Homo sapiens: one gene and its partners. The protein of the gene in region 2 purifies or fractionates together with the protein of the main gene of each other region. This does not show direct contact. Each region holds a gene or a part of one and is shown on either strand. Other genes may lie near its edges.

Evidence for each region.
Region 1: the proteins of SLC40A1 (region 2) and CP purify together in Homo sapiens (co-immunoprecipitation; one study listed by IntAct). This does not show direct contact.
Region 3: the proteins of SLC40A1 (region 2) and UBE2J2 purify together in Homo sapiens (affinity purification with mass spectrometry; one large-scale study listed by BioGRID and IntAct). This does not show direct contact.
Region 4: the proteins of SLC40A1 (region 2) and RBMS1 purify together in Homo sapiens (affinity purification with mass spectrometry; one large-scale study listed by BioGRID and IntAct). This does not show direct contact.

The regions. Positions count from the first base shown.
Region 1 is NC_000003.12:149,214,385-149,219,229, forward strand, and holds part of CP (ceruloplasmin precursor), read right to left. Parts: intron 1-4,845. UniProt on the Homo sapiens protein: Multifunctional blue, copper-binding (6-7 atoms per molecule) glycoprotein. It has ferroxidase activity oxidizing Fe(2+) to Fe(3+) without releasing radical oxygen species. It is involved in iron transport across the cell membrane.
Region 2 is NC_000002.12:189,559,421-189,564,462, forward strand, and holds the end of SLC40A1 (ferroportin), read right to left. Parts: intron 4,806-5,042; coding exon 4,164-4,805; intron 2,772-4,163; coding exon 2,458-2,771; 3' UTR 1,170-2,457; downstream 1-1,169. UniProt on the Homo sapiens protein: Transports Fe(2+) from the inside of a cell to the outside of the cell, playing a key role for maintaining systemic iron homeostasis.
Region 3 is NC_000001.11:1,262,910-1,267,754, forward strand, and holds part of UBE2J2 (ubiquitin-conjugating enzyme E2 J2), read right to left. Parts: coding exon of another isoform or gene 4,824-4,845; intron 3,382-4,823; coding exon of another isoform or gene 3,189-3,381; intron 2,682-3,188; exon of another isoform or gene 1,922-2,681; coding exon of another isoform or gene 1,874-1,921; intron 478-1,873; coding exon 437-477; intron 1-436. UniProt on the Homo sapiens protein: Catalyzes the covalent attachment of ubiquitin to other proteins. Seems to function in the selective degradation of misfolded membrane proteins from the endoplasmic reticulum (ERAD).
Region 4 is NC_000002.12:160,279,863-160,284,707, forward strand, and holds part of RBMS1 (RNA-binding motif, single-stranded-interacting protein 1), read right to left. Parts: intron 2,443-4,845; coding exon of another isoform or gene 2,395-2,442; intron 1,503-2,394; coding exon 1,452-1,502; intron 1-1,451.

The DNA.
Region 1 (4,845 bases), on a different chromosome or scaffold from region 2:
TTCCTCCTAGTCACTACCATATACCAATACACTGGGAATACCAATTTTCCTGAATTGTATAAACCCGAATTCCCAAAGAAGATAAAATTATTCACTAAAAAAATGACTGAGATGATGTTTCCCTGTCCATCCCCTGTCCTGGTGGGAGGGCTAAGCTAGAAGTTAGAAAAATAAAGTGTCATTATTTGCAGCCTGTGTGGAGCAGCAAAACTGTGAGTATACCCTCATTTTTTCTATTTGTTTTCACTTTCTAATTGTTTGTTGCCATTTCCCAATTTGTTAAAGCAAAATAGGAAAAGATTGGGAGAGACTTCATGGACACAGGTAGGCATGGGAAAAGGGCAAGACACTGGGGTGAACTCTGTCCCTAAACCCATAGCAAGGAATGCACAGAAAGAGTCTTAATAAATATATGTCTTAACAACAGCAAAATTGTTGCATCAAAGACTACTAAGTTTAAAAGCAGAGAGTCATTCAGTCCATATGACTGAGAGGAGGTCAATAAGAGTGCAATTTCAGTTAGGTACACAACTGCAGCTGCAAAGTCTACAGTACAAAGGTACAATTCCACTCTGGTCCCACCGGAACCCTGGACCAATCAATCTCACAGAGACTTGTCTAAGCCCCAGGGTAAATTTTCTTAAGAGTCTGAACACACTTTTATTTCTGAGAGATTGATTTGATAATATTTGGAGACTTTACTCCATGCTTTACCATGTCCTATTGGTACACATCTTACATAGGCCAAAGTTAAAAGTTAGCCCTCAAATTCTTAAGGCTTCATTTAAATAAAATGTTTCTTTATATTTTCTGAATGTAAATACACTTTGGCATACATCATGTCCTATTTTGATAAACTATAGCAGGCTTTGTCAAAATGATTTTATTGCATTGAAATGCTCCTGTATTAATCATTTCCTAAAATAGGAAGAGCATTGCCATAAACAAATACCTAAGACCAAGACCAAGACCTATATTGCCTAGGCTTTGTAACTAATTTTTCTAGGCAAAGTTTTTTGGGGGGGTTAAAATTGCTTTTAAAATTATTGATCTGAAGGTATAACATATCTAGGCGTTTTAACATCTGAAATTCCTTTTATACACATTGCAATATGCAAACTGCTTTTTGCATCTTGCCTTTTATTGTGAAAAAAACTGTCTTAACCAAACTGGAAAATATTTTACACTGTGTGACACTTTGGGAGAAGTCTATTTGTTTATGCTTTGTCTCCAAATAAACATTAAAAGGTCATTAGGGGCTCTCTATTTAATTTCGACAGCACAGCTTGAGGACAAAGGGCCAGTTACTGGAAGCTTGCAGGAAGTTTGCCAGTTAGATATTCAGCCACAAGAATCTATTATAGCTGTTCTTTCAACCAAATAATTCACATTTAATTGTAGTTCTTCCTGTTGACAACTGTAGTATGTTCCTTTCTACTCATTACTGTAGACATATCTCCCTTCAAGTAATCAATCACATTCTCTCTTTTTAGCCCCTTATTTAAAAAAAGAAAAGCCCGCTCCTATAATTTCTGGTAGTCTTAGACCCAGAAATGAGTTTTTAATAGTAGCATAACTATTTTTTAGTATTGCTTTGGTAAGATATTAATAATGCTATTCCCTCCCATAAATTTAGAATTCACTCAAGTGATCTTGGTTTATGCTTAGACGTGGTTCCCAAAACTTGGGTATTATAGGTGAAAAGTTTCTGGATTTTTGACTTCATTAATTGAGACATATATTTTTTATTGCTGCATAACAAATTATCACAAAGTAGGTTAAAACAACACCCATTTATAATCTCACTATTCTATGGGTCAGAGTCTGGCATGGTGTGGCTGGGTTCACTGCCTCAGGCATCACCAAGCTGAAATCAAGGGGCTGCTGAGCTGAGTACTTATCTGAGGCTCTGTGGAGAAATCTGCCTAGCTCATTTGGGTTATTGCCAGAATTCAGTTCAGTGGGGTCATAGAATTAAAATCCTTGTTTGCTTGCTGGCTATGGGCCGAGAGCCTCTCCCAGTTTCTTAAGGTCACCCGTATGCCCTCCTAGGTGGCCCCTTTCATCTTCAAGTCAGCTTCAGTGTGTGGACTCTTCAGATAATCTCACTGACTAAAACATAAATCATGAGAGTGATGTCTCATCCTGTTCACAGGTTCTGGAGATTTAGGATAGGATTTCTTCTGGGAGCCACTTTGGAAATGCTGCCTACCATAAACAAGAATCATAAGGAAAACAGTCAAAAATTAACTGCTGCAAGAATATGGCAGAGACTCAACCTAGGTATATATAACACAAATTCAAGTGATTTGCCGGTTCTAACCAGCCTTCCTCCACTGGCGCAGCATGAATGCAGTACCTAGTGAATTTTCTTTTGTCTGTGTTCTCAGGAGAAATAGGAACTTGATAATAAATGGAATTTGGTCAGTGTGAAATGTTAGTCACTTAATTAGCTCTTCCATACAAGCTGTCTTGTGTGAAGTGTTTGGAAGTGTACTGCACTAGCTATTGCTTGCTTTTTTTTTTTTTTTTTTGAGATGGAATCTTGCTCTGTCGCCCAGGCTATAATGTAACGGCGTGATCTCGGCTCACTGCAACCTCCACCTCCTGGGTTCAAGCAACTCTCCTGCCTTGGCCTCCTGAGTAGCTGGGACTACAGGCGCACGCCACCACACCTAGCTAATTTTTGTATTTTTAGTAGAGACGGGATTTCACCATGTTGGCCAGGCTGGTCTCAAACTCCTGACCTTGTGATCCACCTGCCTTGGCCTCCCAAAGTGCTGGGATTACAGGTGTGAGCCACCACGCCCAGCCCTATTGCTTGCTATTTTTTATTTGGCAACCTTGGAGAATGAGTCATTTAAAGTAAATTTTCCAGAAAATTTTAGCTAGTAATTGTACCTATTTAAGAATCATTTAAAAATTTAAAAATCATTTTTGAAGGGATGCTATATAACTTGGGAGGCCACTAGGCTGAGACAACATCAGCGCCTTGGGTTCCTACGTAAGCAAACCAAAACCCAATTCAATGTAGTAAACAGTAAAATGAAACTTCGAATCTGTAACTAGAGACTTTACCAATCAGAAGCCGCCAACTAACATCTAACTAGGGAGTCTCCACTTTAACCAGTCTAATATCTATTTCTTAGTCTGAGAATACGTTATAAAAGTTTCCTCCCTGCCCAGAGGAGCATTGACAGAACTGCTTGTGGTCTTAGGGCACCCAATTGCTGTGGCTGAATGCTTGAATAAACTTGTTAAACTTTCAATATGCCCAAGTTTATCTTTTAATAGGGGTAAAATGAATGTCATTAGTGCAAGCTTTTTCTTTAAAAATATTTTATTTGCTTCCCTGTTTTCCTAAACAGCGGATATAATGGAAAAAAAGTAACTTTTTTGATAACAATAGTGAAATGAACACTTATTGAATACTTATTATATCCTGATCACTCAAGATCATAATTATAGTAATTATGATTACCGTAAGGTGGAATGTTCTTTGTTGTCTAGTTTTTTGGTCAGGATTTGAGCTGTTATTTCTTCTTGGTCATTAGGCCTGCTTATAGTGACATCTTCACTGTACCATTTGTTTTGGAAACCTCTAATGGAATGAAAAACCCGGTAATAATGTTTGTAAGAACTGTATGTTAAGAAAGTTGCCAAGCCTGAGTGAGAGCCTATGAAGTCAAGTATAAAAGAGTTTTGTGATGGCCGTTCGTATACTTAAAAAAATTTTCACTTATTTCCAGCTTCCTAGAGGTCATCAGAAAAAAAAGTAATCTGAAGATAAGAGAATTACTATAATTTTTGCTATTATATAGTCAATTAATTCAGTAAATAATTAACTAATGCCTACTATGGACCCAGAACACACTATTGTGTTTACTAATTGTTTTTATATGTATGTCATTTATTTTAATTTGAATATATATAACTTAGGATCAGGAATTATCTCTTATAAAGTCTTTAACTACTTACTGATGTGTTGAAGTGACAGATAAGGCACTGACCCAAGTAAATAGCAGTACTGAGTATAAGGAAATTATTTTCCACTTCACTCTTTTAGAAATAAATATTATTGGCATTAATACCAGAGAAGTAAACTTTATTTTTTTAGTCCCCCCCAAAACCTATACATTTTTCTCTTTTAATATCTGCCAGTGTTTTCAGTTGCACTAACCCTGCATATAATCCCCTCAGGTGACTTTTCTATCTTATTCTGTTACCTGATTTGTTCTATAGCATGAATCTCTCCACATGAGGAGCAAGGAAAAGTTTTTACAATACAGTCTATGATTTTTCCTATCTTCCTATGTATCTTTTATTTACTCATTTAAACTTATTCAGAAATATTTATTTAGTGTCTCCTATATTCTAGGTACTAGTGACCAAGCACTAGTACTTGCATATGCATATACTAGTACTCTCAATGCATATTTTCCTGTTCATCATCCCAGACCTTCAAGATCAACATTCAGCTTAAACTCGATTCTTTACCTAAAATTCATATTACACTCTTTCACATCTTATTCTTCAGCCCATTTATTTCCACTCCTTTTTAGTCATCATACGATAAGAAGTGCCAACCATGTCTTGTGATACTCCATCATCCTTCACTGACTGGGCTAAACATGCTGCAAATCTGGGACAAAGAAGGGACCAAAAGGTTGCTATCTGCACACATCTATGCAAAAAGTTTAGCATAGTATTGGCAAAATTGCTGAAGCTGTATTCAAAATTCACTGGTAAGATATATGGGGGAAAAAAATCACAGAGAAAGCAGTCCCACCTAGAGTTTGCAAAACTGTAGCATATTGTTGAAGCCAGAGGAGATGTTAAAGTCAC
Region 2 (5,042 bases):
AACAAAATTAAATACTTCGGTAAAATGCAATTACATATAAAACGAGTATTTTCCTATTTCAAATCTACTTCATTCATTTTAATGACCTAATTGGCTCTGCAGTTATTTGAGTTTGACCCCATATTTAGAAGCACCCCCATAACACAGCCACACAGGTCACCTACCCCTGCCCTACTTCTGTGGTCTGAGGAAGTAAACAACAAAGGCTGTCCAGACCAGCAGTGATTCTTTTCCACTTCCTTCCTCTTCCTGCTCTGAGCAGTAGTCTGCAAAGGTAAGAGCAACAGCTGTAAAAATTCCTATTAACTCTTCAACTCCATGCTTCTTCTTCCTACACAGGGCCTCTCTCACTAGATGCACAGAATGGCAAAATGCCCATATTAAGAGCTGAGGCCTCCCCTTGCTAATGTGGTTCTGTTCATTTTTCAAGGTCATAGGCCTTCAGTTACAGCTGCAAACATTCAGGACAGATCTTCAATCCCAGCCTTGACCCCTGTGGGAGGGAGCAGAGAGCCAGTTCAAGACAGCAGCCAAACCTAACAGAGGCATCTAGTTTGCACAAACATCATGAACAGATCAGTAGCTGCAGGGCGATGCCAAATGCTCTCAAGTTCTCAATTTTAGGAGAAAGGAAAGGAGGCTCTGATCAACTATGTCTGAGTCCAGTCTGAATCCCTAGGACTGATAACAGTTTAGATCAAGTCCCCAATAAATGTTTCCTTTATGCAGAATGTGGCTCTACTCTCTCTAGAGGCAGCAGACATCTCTCCTCAGCTCCCCGTCATTACTAAGGTCCAACCTCTAGTAAAAATGCTGCCTTGTCTTGTAGTTCACTAAGTAATTCCACATGGCTTCTCTTATTTCATTCAACCAGGAAAGTTGAAAGGTAGGTAGGGTTGTTTTTACTATCATTTCCAATTTACAGAAGGGAAAATAGAAGTGAGAACTTAAAAGTGCTTAGTGTGACATATTCAAAGTCAAAGAAAGAGTGCTGGGCCTCATGTCTACTACACTTTTATCCAGTCCACCATAAACTAGAAATATGAACAGGGAGATAACACTAAAAATCATGACACTGTAGCCCTTTATAGAGAAAAACAAGTTACCCAAAACAGATGTTCTGTAACAAAAGCCTTGTTAAATAATTGGGGAACAGAATTCAGGAAAAATTAAGATTTTCAAAATATTTTTATATAGAAATTTTTTACAAAGATTTTACAACATAGCAAATCATTATGTCATACTGTAGAAAGATGAAGCAAAGGATTAAACTCCAAGGATAAAGAAAGTGCTCATAGCAACGTATTGCAGTCTCCATGAAAGTGCATATAAACGGTTAAGGCAAAGTACCATCTTGGTACAGACATGTTGCAAACTGACTTTTAAAACAATTTTTTAAAATATATACAAACTTTTTTTCTTCTATTCTTCTCAAAGGCATTTGAAAGGGATACTTTTATGAATATTCTTGCTGTAGAACAATGTAGAAATAACTTCTGGGTATAAAACAGTAAAAATAAAAATATTCTACCTGAGTGTGTTAAATCAAGTGATTTGTAAAACAAAACCTTCACAAGTGTGGGCTTTCTACATGTAACTTGCCAGGCTGAAGGCTTACACCCTCATGTTCTACAACACAGATCACTAATGATGATAACATGAGTTAAATTGGGATTCTTGCCCTTCTGTGTGGCTTTTGGCTTCTAGGTTCTATGACCAAACTATTGACATATTTGAAGTCTGTATGCAGTCATTGTGTGATAAATCTACTTTACAGCTTTGCTTCTACCTGCAGCTTACATGATAACCATGCTGTGAAGTGCTACATATGCTTCATACAATATGTTGCCCCATCTGATAATAAAAATACAAAGGTGCTCTTTAAGCTAAACCATAAACCTTATTAGAGAATTCTAGTTAAGTGTTTTGTTTTTCCACATACATGTAAATACCTTAAGATCAATAGGATCAATAAGGATAATATTAGTTATCAAAATTTAGTCTTCATACTTGAAGAATTTGTTTTTAAAAATAACTAAGATGCAAAAAAATAAATTAGCTAGTCTTGAACAAGAGTGAGTTTTGCAGAAAACTGACATATCTGAATTCTAGTACAGATAAGAATCTGTCAAATGATAACTGAATTCACGTGACTAACCACTCTTTTACGTAAGATTGTATCTACTCATGAGAAATAGGGGAATTCAGTGTTATCATTATAGTCTCCGTATTTAAACTGAGTTTTTCTTTTCCAATTTTTTTTCCATGCCTCAACATAAGGGAAATTAATCAGTTAATTTCTGCTGACTTAGGTTTCCTAAACAGCTTTTAGTTCTCAAGGCACAGCTGTGGTAAAAACAGAGCAAAACACCCAGCCATTTATTGGAATTCTGCAGTACAAAATAAGCACATGTGCTCTATATAATCTAGTAACAGGATAGCAACAGTTAAACTGTCTCAAACAACAGATGTATTTGCTTGATTTTCCTTCCTAACTTCTTTTGCATCAGGACCGCAAGCAAAGAGCTTGTTTCCCAGAGTATTTTGGGCAAATCGGAAATACATAATGTGGCCCATTGCCACAAAGGAGACTGAAATCAATACGAGCAAGCCAAAAGCTTCAGGATTTGGAGCCAGGATGACCATGATGAAATGCAGAAGATCAAGAAGATAGTTCATGGAGTTCTGTACACCATTTATAATGCCTCTTTCAGATTCAATTACATTTTCTTGCAGCAACTGTGTCACAGTTAAATCAAAGGACCAAAGACCTATAATAAAATATTTTTTTAAAGATTAGATTTTAGTTTACAGGCATACATTTCAAATCACAGATAAAAATCTGTTGACATATGCAAAATATACATTTTAGCCTGACTGTCTTTAAGTCACCTTAAATATACCATAGCCTTGCCTTAAGAATTATTTTTCATAAATAAATATTGGGTTATTAGTGGCCTCAATAAATGATTTTTACAGTCATCAGACAAAAAGAAGTCTAATCTACAAACTTCTTAGTTCTGTTTTTCTGTGATTATTCATACTACAAAAACAAAACTTTGAAATCAGAGACATAATAAATCCTATTATAGTATAAGTACTAGTATTTTTTAAGTTTCAAATGACCTAATAAATGGTTATGGTTAAAGTGTAAGGAAACTTTAAACCATTGTTATATTACTGCTAGAGTTCTAAAGCCCAAACAATAAAGCTGTCTTGCCTGGAAATTAATATCTTCAATAAACTAATGAACTGTTTTGTATCACAAGATAAAAACAGTTTCATTTCAAGACTGAATTCAGAGATAATTCATCAGTACTCTATTAATTATTACTTAAATTTTGCTTTGTAAGAAGTCTTTATGTTTCCTTCCAGGGCTATAAAATCCATTTGTGTGGCAAACTATATAATAAATACATATTTGCTAGAGAAGACCTTTGAAGGATTTTTTTTATCACTTTCACATCTTCTTTTAAAGCCAAAAACATTACCTTTTTAGTGTTGTCCTATGGGAATATTTTCTAAACTACAGTTTTTTTGTTAAGGTTATTGCAATATCAAGACTCTACTAGATGGCAGTATAATTAATATAGCTAATATCTTTTATAAATTAAATTACATTTAAAAAGTAATCACTTGAGCTCAGTAATTCAAGACCACCTTCGGCAACATGGCAAAACCCCATCTCTACAAAACATACAAAAATTAGCAAGGTATGGTGGCACATGGCTGTAGTCCCAGCTACTTGGGGGACTGAGGCAGGAGGACTGCTTGATCCCAGGAGGTCGAGGCTGCAGTGAGCTGTGACTGCACCACTGCACTCCAGCCTGGGTAACAGAGCAAGACCCTGATCTCAAAAAAAAAAAAACAAAAAAAAAAACAAGTAATATTTAAGATATTCATTTAGAAAAAATTATTTTCAAGCCTGAACCATGTTTTAAGTATATGTATATAATAAAGTAAACAAATACAGGTTTTCAAACTATAAAATAAAAAACACAATAAATATAAAGTATAAATATGTAAAATAAAAATTTCGTAAGAGTGGATTTTGCTTAAATTAACATTTAGGGAACATTTCAGATCATTTATTAATGGATTCTCTGAACCTACATTACAAAAAGACACTTTAGTTCATTAATATATAAAAAGAGATTTCTTACCGATTCTAGCAGCAATGACGCCTGCAAACAGCAGACTGACAGAGATTATGGGCACAGATTCAGGACTTGTCTCCGGGACAATATTAGCAGAATTAGACCCATTAGACATGTATATTTCAGTTGTAATTTCAGGTATCTTGGTAGGTGTAATTGACTCTCCTTGAATGAACCTTGATCGGATATCTTCAAAAGGAGAAACGGACAAGTCCAGGGGGCTTCCAGGCATGAATACAGAGATCACACACAAGATCAAACAGGAAAGCTGTGCCAATCCTGAGATCAGACCTGTCCGAACCAAACCACATTTTCGACGTAGCCAAGTAAAAGCTACAGTTCCCATTATTCCAGTTATAGCTGATGCTCCCATCAAAATACTGAGGATGGAACCACTCAGTCCCTGAGTGTAGGCGTACCCTGTGGTGATGCAGTCAAAGCCCAGGACAGTCATATAAAGGAAAGCAAGACCCATGCCAGCCAGAAACACAGGCTGGTTGTAGTAGGAGACCCATCCATCTCGGAAGGTACGGAAGGGCTCAGCCATCTGGGAGGCACAAGTAGGCTCTTGCTCATGTTCAAGCTCATGGATGTTAGAGTCTTTCACACCCATTAGATGAGTTCCCTCCAGGGGTTTTGGCTCAGTATCTGTTAAGAAAAGATACCATTATTTTGTTGGGGAGGACATGTAGAAATAAAAGCCAATTATTAGTAGTACTTTTTTTCCTTCTATTCCCCTTCCCAATGGGTACCCTTGGTTAGACATTGTAATATGTATTTTCTTTTACTAATAATCTAAGAATTCCAGCCAAGGAATAATCATCAAGTGTCATTTTTATTAAATAAACAAAATACTATTGATCTATCCCTCTTTTTTTTCTCTCT
Region 3 (4,845 bases), on a different chromosome or scaffold from region 2:
ACAGGGGTACTTCCACTTAGCTCAGAGACCGTCCTGGGGATTGCGAAACCCTGGGGGCGCCCAGCACAGAAGGCACACTGAATAACTGAATATATGTGCCTTTCCTTTGATGATATGCACTGGGTCTTAAGAAATAGTAGAACAGGCCAGCTTCAGTGTTTACCCCGGTCTGGTTTTCTCAGCTATGGCCCTATGGTGTCAGAGGCTGGTGAACACAGACGCTACAGGCGGCCCTGCAGGCTGAGACACATCAGCAGAGCAAACACTTCCAGCGTGTGGAGAAGCAGACGAGGAGGAGTTCCAACTAAGCCAATTTAACTAGCACACATCCAAAGTAGAAAGGCTGCTGTTTGCAAATAAAAGATGTTGAACAGGCAAGGCTGACTGAGAATATAAAAACCGCCTGGTGTTCTTCTCCTAAGCACAGAATCCTTACCTTCATAAGGGGTCATCTCTGGGCCTCGGACGACATAGTGCCTAAGGGAGAGAAGAAAATTACTTGGGATTTGAGGACAGCAAATTCTCCAAAATCTGAATCATTCCAAGCCTGGGGTTTATAGAACCCAGCCAAAATTACATTCACATTCAGGCAGTGAACAAATGAAGGTGAAATGTCACACAGCCACACGGCTTCAAAACCCCCGTCTCTTCTACCGTGGGTGCTTTTAGTCTCTTGTAACAGGATCTTAGAGACTATACTTTATAAGTTTACCATAAAGTACCTTTGTTTCGACAATATAACATGCACGAAGCTCATCTTAATAATAACTGAAATCTTAAATAAATTTTAATTTCACAGTACATTACTAAGATGTACTTGAAGACTGTAATCCCAGCACTTTGGGAGGGCACGGTGGAAGATCGCTTGAGCCCAGGAGCTTGACACCAGCCTAGGCAACATAGCAAGACCCCACCTTTATTTAAAAAAAAAAAGTTAGCCGGGTGTGGTAGTGCATGCCTGCAGCCCGCCTACTCAGGAGGCTGAGGCGGGAGGATCACTTGAGCCCAGGAGTTTAAGGCTGCAGTGAGCTATGATTGTGCCACCACATCCCATTTGGGCAACAGAGTGAGACCCTATCTCCAAAGAAAAAACGATGTACTTTGAAATGTATATTCTTAAATGTACTTATATATAATGTGTTTTTTGATATCACACATGCAGGCTAAACAGAACACAGCTAGTGATGCGGGGCCGGCTCGGTACCCCCAGCCCTTTCTCGTGCTCCTGGAAAAACCATAAGTGACTTGAGCAGCTGTCCTGGAGCAGAAGGAACAGGAACTGCCGTGATTGTGTCCAAAGCCACAGTCCCCACACAGAGCTCACCCTCAGACCAGGGGCAGCAGCAAATCGACTAAACACTCCTCCACACAAATAAATAAGGCTTCTGCTTTACGTAAAGAAGTGTCTGGGCTTTACAGATTCCCAAACGAAACAGAAGAGCACAGAGAAGAAAGTAAAACCAGCTAGAAATGCCAGAAACCAGACATGGCTTCAACTGCCAACACCGGCCAACACCGGCCATCATCTTTCCCCTTGCTCTGCCCCAGGACATGTGTGCCATCACTTTAAAACTAATGGGGGCTGGGCTCGGTGGCTCATGCCCGTGATCCCAGCACTCTGGGAGGCCAAGGTGGGTAGATCACCTGAAGTCAGGAATTCGAGACCAGCCTGGTCAACATGGCGAAACTCCGTCTCTACTAAAAATACAAAAATTAGGCCAGGTGCGGTGGCTCACACCTGTAATCCCAGCACTTTGGGAGGCTGAGGCAGGTGGATTGCCTGAGGTCAGGAGTTCAACACCAGCCTGGGCAACACGGTGAAACCCTGTCTCTATTAAAAATACAAAAATTAGCCAGCCATGGTGGCACACACCTGTAATCCCAGCTACTCAGGAGGCTGAGCCAGGAGAATCGCTTGAACCTGGAAGACGGAGGTTGCAGTGAGCCGAGGTCACACCGCTGCACTCCAGCCTGAGTGACAGAAATAGTACTCAAAAGAAACTACTAATGGGATGACGTATAGTAATGTATACTAATGGGATGATGTATCAGCAGAGCCAGCTGGTATGTTTTACTCAAAAAATGCCATTATCATGTGTCATTGACCCAGGAACCCAGTGGCTCTGAGCTCAGCACGCGATGCACCCAGGAATGTGGCCTTACGTTGTTACTGTGCCCAACCTGCGAAAACTGGGAAGAAATGAAGAAGTCATCCTCTTCCTGAGACAGAGCCCAGCAGCCTTGGGGCGGCTGAGAGAAGATGGGATCCACGTGGCCCATAGCGCACCCCACAGGCCTTTTCTGGGAAAGCAGTCTTCTCTCGGGGAAGGGAGAGACACCTGCCGAGGACCTGCCAGGGGCTCTCGCACTGACGCTGCTGTCCTTAATGCCTCAACAGTACAGGCAACATGGGCTACGCTGAGCCCCTGCTCTCCTGGAAGTCTGGTATTTTGGTATTTTGGCAGGTGCCAGGCAGAGGGTGCCTAGGACCAGCCCCATAAAGTCCCTGGGCCTTCCCCTAATGTTTTAGTTTCCAATGAGTTTCTCTGCTCAACATTCCACACATGCCGTCCAAACCCAAGCCTGCTGCTGGGAATGGAGCACAGAGACTTTGCCCCACATGCCTCTTCCGCTGGCTGACTGCAGTTTTCTCTCGTGTGTGTGTGTGTGTGTGTGTGTGTGTTTTCTCTCCATTGTGTGTGTGTGTGTGTGTGTGTGTGTGTGTGTGTGTGTGTGTGTGGTGGAGTCTCACTCTGTCGCCAGGCTGGAGTACAGTGGTGCGATCTCAGCTCACTGCAACCTCCGCTTCCCGGGTTCAAGCGATTCTCCTGCCTCACCCTCCCAAGTAGCAAGTAGCTGAGATTACAGGCGTGCGCCACCATACCGGGCTAATTTCTGTATTTTCAGTAGAGACAGGGTTCCACCATGTTGGCCAGGCTGGTCTCAATCTCCTGACCTTGTGATCCACCCACCTCGGCCTCCCAAAGTGCTGGGATTACAGGCATGAGCCACTGTGCCTGGACTTCTCTCCGTAATTTTAATGGTGAGTATTCTTTGTGAATCATCGAACCTGCACCGGGACTTGGGGACGCCTGACCCACAGATTTGTGGGGAGGGATTTCCCCACACAATGAAGACGTCCTCGCAACCAGCGAGGAGGCGGCTACCGTGGAACTTGTCCCTCTCACCTGCCAGCGATGTCCTGGGGCCACATGTGATTTTCAACACTGGGGGCAGAGAGCACTCTGGTGGCCAAGGGGCTCCGCCTCACCCTGGGTATCCTCCGCCTGCCTGGGCTGGGCCTCCTCTGTGAGCCAGAGAAGGTGGACCCCTGACCAAGCCGAAACACATTTCCTTTCAACTCACTGAAATATCTTTTCTCTGGAATTAAAAAAAATTAGGCCAGGCATGGTGGCTCAAGCCTGTAATCCCAGCACTTTGGGAGGCTGAGGCAGGCAGATCACCTGAGATAAGGAGTTCGAGACCAGCCTGACCAATATGGTGAAACCCCATCTCTAAGGCAGGAGAATTGCTTGAACCAGGGAGGCGGAGGTCACAGTGAGCCGAGATCACGCCATTGCACTCCAGCCTGGGCGACAGAGCAAGACTCTGTCTCAAAAAAATAAATAAGGCCGGGCGTGGTGGCTCACGCCTGTAATCCCAGCATTCTGGGAGGCCAAGGCGGGCGGATCACGAGGTCAGGAGATCAAGACCATCCTGGCTAACACGGTGAAACCCCGTCTCTACTAAAAATACAAAAACAAAAAATTAGCCGGGCATGGTGGCAGGCGCCTGTAGTCCCAGCTACTTGGGAAACTGAGGCCAGAGAATGGCATGAACCCGGCAGGCAGAGCTTGCAGTGAGCCGAGATTGTGCCACTGCACTCCAGTCTGGGTGACAGTGCAAGACTGTCTCAAAAAATAATAATAAGTAATTTTTTTTTAAAAGATCAAAATATAAAACATCCTTACATTTTATTTTATTTTATTTTATTTTGAGACAGAGTTTCGCTCTTGTTGCCCAGGTTGGAGTGCAGTGGTGTGATCTCAGCTCACTGCAAGCTCCGCCTCCCGGGTTCAAGCGATTCTCCTGCCTCGGCTTCCCGAGTAGCTGGGACTACAGGTGTGCGCCATCATGCCCAGCTAATATTTGTATTTTTAGTAGAGACAGGGTTTCACCATGTTGACCAGGCTGGTCTCGAACTCCTGACCTCAGGTGATCCGCCCGCCTGAGCCTCCCAAAGTGCTGGGATTACAGGTGTGAGCCACCATGCCCGGCCTCTCACACTTTATTTCTTACCAAATTACTAGCAGACCTGTAATGGCAGTGTTTCGACAGAGCAGTATGCACTCTCACACTCTATACTTCAGCAAGGGGGAGAGTCACCATGAGGTGAATGCTTATGAGGCACAGGTCCTCTCGTTGTCAGCCTGAGGGTCGGGGCACCTGGCCCAAGCCAGTGCCAGGGACAGGAGTGTCGGACCCTAGTCCTGTCAAATACTCCAAGCCAAAACAGGCTAATTCCCATATCCAGAAGCAAAGAGCAGAGTCTAGAAAGGCAGTTTCTCCTCTAAGTGCCTAGAGTGCACACCAGCAACAGCTGTGAACCCTGCATACCTGGACCCCTCCCCTAAGGACCCCACACCAGAGACTCTCTCCAGCCCCAACCTGAGTCAACCTGGACCCCGCCCCCCTCAAGGGCCCCACACCGGAGATTCTCTCCAGCCCCAGCCTGAGTCAAGCATGGCTCTGTGATGTCCCCGGCATGCGTCCATTGGGAAAAGACCAGAGAGTGTCCACAGGCCCCTGGGCACCCCACTCACCCCGGGGGAGGGTGCAGGAGCA
Region 4 (4,845 bases), about 29 Mb from region 2:
TTCTGCTTACATTCCTAATGTCTCCTCAAAGATGTTAAGCTCAGATACGTGCAGTCTTTTTCTCAAATGTTGCCAAAAAGAAAAAAAGATATAGATGTGTGTCAGAGATAATGTTTGTCATTAATACATTCTGTTAGAAATTTTTTTTTTAACATGCATCATCAAAAAGCAAGTGGTAACACGGAAATGACTCAGAAGCCTAGAAGATGGTGGAGCAGTTTCCTGCTCCTTTTTCTCATTCATTGGCACCATCTGTAATAGGAAGTCCTCAAATTCAAAGCAAGCTGATTTCCAAGCATTCCAAAATAGGGTAGCATGGAGTATCAGGGACACAGATTGCTATGGGCATGTGTGGATCAGTGCATGTATATTATGTACACATGTACAGGTAAGTGTGGGTTTGAAGATGTGTCTATGTATGTGCACATGTATAGATCTATATGTATGTGTATATATCACACAAAACGTATACATATATCAGAGCGCGCCTCTCCTATTTCATCACCTAAACATGTTTTATCTGCTTCTTAAAGGTCATCTCAGCAATTTCTCATTCAGAACCTGTTATCCCTGGATTGCTATTTCATATACATGGTCTTACATCGCAGTATCCACTTTAAAAGGTATCCGAAGACAAATTGCTGTCTGAACATAAGGCCAAGAATACAGTTCTTTTTCTAAGCAACCAAATCTGTTTTTATTTTACACATATTGTGAACTGTATTGCTTACCAGGATTCCCATTTTGCATCAGTTACTAGAAAGCTTAGAGCCAAATTTGTGATTTTCTCATGTGAGCATGCAGGGTCATTGTGTTGGACATCCTTAGCCTTATTGTAACTTTGTTCTCCATATGTATTTTTAAATTTTCAAACCCTTCTTCCACAAACTAGATCTTATGTGTCTTTGAAAAACACATGAAATACACTATATAATAAGTATAACTCATTCAATTTAAAAAAATGTAATATATATGAATGCTCACGTCATTAAGAAATCACATTTGTTATTTACCAAATAATGTGCTACCACTTTAGTATTTATAATCTCCATAGAAAGGCCAAGTAACACTGATGAAAATCTTCATCTCGGTTTTGAACTTTATATCTGCATTAAACAGAATGTAAAAAATGAGAGCGGTTTTATCCCAAGTACTATTAAAAATGTAGCCTCTCATTTGAATGATCTCTAAAGAGCTGGTATGAATAAGAAAATGGTGCCCTGCCTCAAATATGATATATTTTAAGTTCTTATAGAAAATGTAACTTAATATCTTCTACCAAGTTGTTTTATAAGGATGAGAAGAAGTTTTATAATGAAATTGTACATTCTCATATTCCATGTTTAAAATTTCCCAAATCCTATACCACCCTTGGCAAATGGTTTTAACCTAGAGAGAATATACACATAACTTACTTGTAAAACACAAAGTCATTAAGATAAAAAACTTACAGGGTGCTGTAGAATATATGGTTGAGGTTGCATCCACGAAGGACTTTGCACCTAGAAAAGGGAGGATTTTGAAAGAAATATTGATTTTCATTGTAAAGCTTACCTATTTCTTTAGAACTCTTTTTAATCATGTTAAAAATCTACAGAAAGAAAACAAGGAAACAATACTATCAATGATTAAAAAGATTAAGGCAGTTAGAATTCTTGGCAAACTGGTCACTCTGAACAGGATGAAATGATTATTTAGAAACAATTTCTATTTGCCCACTCAAGAAGTAATTGTTGAGTATCAGGCAACAAAGAGAAAAAGGCGAAACAGACTGGGCCCCACCCTCAAGAAATTTACTATCTATGCAAGGGAGATAAACACAGCAACAACTCAAATAGTGAAAAGTGTTAACAATCAAGGTATGAACTAGGTGCTTTAGAATTACAGATGAATGACGATTAATTCCAGCACATCTTATTAGAAGCTAACCCTTAAAGTATGTGCTTATTTAATACAAAAAACCAAATTCAATTTCTCTTTCATATCTAGGACATTAATTTTAGAAATCTTGTATTGTGGTCAACAATTTCTACTTAGTGCAGAAAATAAAAATCTGAAATTCAGATTAAGGAAATTAAACTTCAGTAACTAGATTTTGACATCTACAGTCAAATGGGCATCCACACAGTAGACCCTCTGAATTGAGAAATAGATGTGAGAGTCAGGTTTTGTGGCAGGAAAGAAAGCATGTGTAGTCTGCCACTCAAGAGAAAAACATATCAGCCCATTTCTTGATGCCCAGAGCTTTCCAGAGTCTAAGTAATTTTATTAAGTTTCAGTTTCCAATTCTTAACAACAAAACCCTCCTGCATTTTATCCCCTATTGTTAACTTCAGAGGTTCAACAGAGAGGATATGGGGAAGAGTCATGGGGGAAGAATGTATTGCGATTTACCTTGATAGCAGAGCCCCGATACTTGTTTTCTCTGGTTTCCTTTGCCACCTAAGGCAGACCAAAGTTAAGTGCTTCTGCCTTGTTAACATTTCAGTTATCTGGACTGTAGCCTTTCCCCATTGGGGTTGGTGGTTTCTTGCAGCTGCCAATTTCTCAAATCCAATTGCATAAGCTTATGGTGGTTTAGTGGAGAAAGGCCCACTCCAACATGAGTGCAGGGCCCTCACTGGATATATGATGGGAAGGCAAACAACTCCCTACAGACCCTAATTTGGGCCAGATGCCCCCATTTTTTATATGCTTCAGTGGTCTTAATAATCTAATAGCTTATAGCATTACAGGATTAGGGAACTATGACATCTAATTTTCTTTCTTAAGCAGCAAATCAGCTGCTGTCAATTTCTATTCCTCAATTTTCTAATTATAAAATGGGAATAATAATGTTTTGTAAACTCTTTACTATTGGTTCTTAACCTCTTTAGGGTCATGGAGCCCTCTGAAAACCTAATTAGGGAAATAGAACATTTTTCCCCACTTAATTGCACACACACAAGCAACATTTTGCAAACAACTTAAGGAGTCACAGATCACTTAAAGCTCATCCACTGACCCTACTAGGTCCCTGAACTTATGTAGTTAAAAATCAGTCTTTGAGGCTATGGCACCGAGTGTCAGGCAATGCAATGAAATTCCATATGTATCTTAGAGAAATACAGAATGCCCAGGAGAGGAAATAAGGCCTCTGAAATAATATGTTATTTCTAGTTAGCTATATCAAATCTATTACTGACACAGATCTCCTAATTTTTATTGTACAAAATGGTTCTGTGGCCAAATGCACACTGGTTTTATATTATAAGAGGGAAAAAGAGGTGTTGGAGAAATGTGTTAATAGCTGTAATATCTATAGCAACATAAATTCAAATTAATACTTACAACCTTTCATTTGCCTGAGAATAACTTACACTTGCCCCTATTTTCAGTGACATATAAATGACAGAGGTTTCCAAGTTCAGACAGTTAAGAAAGACTACCTTTTCATAGCAGACACATGAATTGTTAATTAGGGAAGTGCACTAGAGCAGATCTCACTGAGTCTTATACAGTCAAAGAAAGGATAGGAATCCTAAATCCAAAACAACTAAAGAGGCATTAAATTAGTCAATACTACGCCCAGCAGAATGAAGCACCAGAATAAGTAACATAAGAACCCAGAGAGAAAAAAGAAAAGAAAACGAGTGACAACTCAGGGAAAGGAGGCTGTAAGAGCCTAGAAGCATAGGAGACTGTGAATGATAATGCCAATCCTCAGTTTTAGCGTATCTAATCACTTCTGTTATTCAAAACCATTTTTATGTTTTTAGGCAGAATTAGTTATATGACATTGCTTATGTTGGCCAATTCATTATTTAAACGTATAACTAATATACTCTTATTATCAGCCACCTAATCATGCATATTAATGATAATAATCATAGCTAACATTAACTGAGTGATAATGATATGTGAGGTCCTTGGCTGGGCTCTTTATACAGTCTCATTTGGTTTTCATAATTCTCTCAAGCCTATGAGATAGAAACTATTATTATCCCCATTTTAAAGATGAGGAAACTGAGGCTTATAGAAGTTAAAATAACACAACTATTAGATTACATATTGTAGTCCTCTAACCCCAGAAATTAGGACTACAACATCTAATTCAATTGTTTTAAAATCAAGAATACACAAAAATTTAGTCACACAGGATCCTGATGGTCAACAAAAGGGAACTCTGCTCCCACATGTCTGCAACTGAACTCCATTATAAGGTTCCTATCTGGGTCCAGGAAGTAATCCTGTTAGAGGTTTTCTGACACAGGAGGAGAAATGCATGTACACTACTGGGTTCATGGCGGACAGGAGCTACCTTTGCATTAAAATCAAATCAAATCTTGAAATACAAGACATTTCAAGAGTTTTTGTTGCTAAGTTGGGAATTTATTTTAAGGTAAAGCCTCCTCACTTAACCTAAACAGGAAGTCACCTTTTTGCTTTTATATTTTTACCTCAAATGTCAGCTGCATTGCTCACTTAATGCTACCTACTAGAGACACATCTTTATGTATTACCATGTTTATACTTGTTCTTTTATCAGTTCCTGCTGAAGAATAAACAAAAGCAAGGGTACACACCTATTCTGTATTATATCTAACGGCAATTATCTTAAGTTTCAATTTTTGGGACACATGGTGTCCAAAAGCAGGGCCCCTTGGTGAAGGAAGTGTTTGGGTTCATTCCAATCCAAAATGCTATGATTCCAAGGACTGACCACTGACAAACATTTTCCTTTGCTTTACATTCTCCTATACATAAATTGCTCTGCCAAATACAAAGCAGCTCATACTAAATTGGGTATCCAAGCTGCATAATATTTGACTCAAATTTCATAAACGCTCAAAATTTTAAGACACA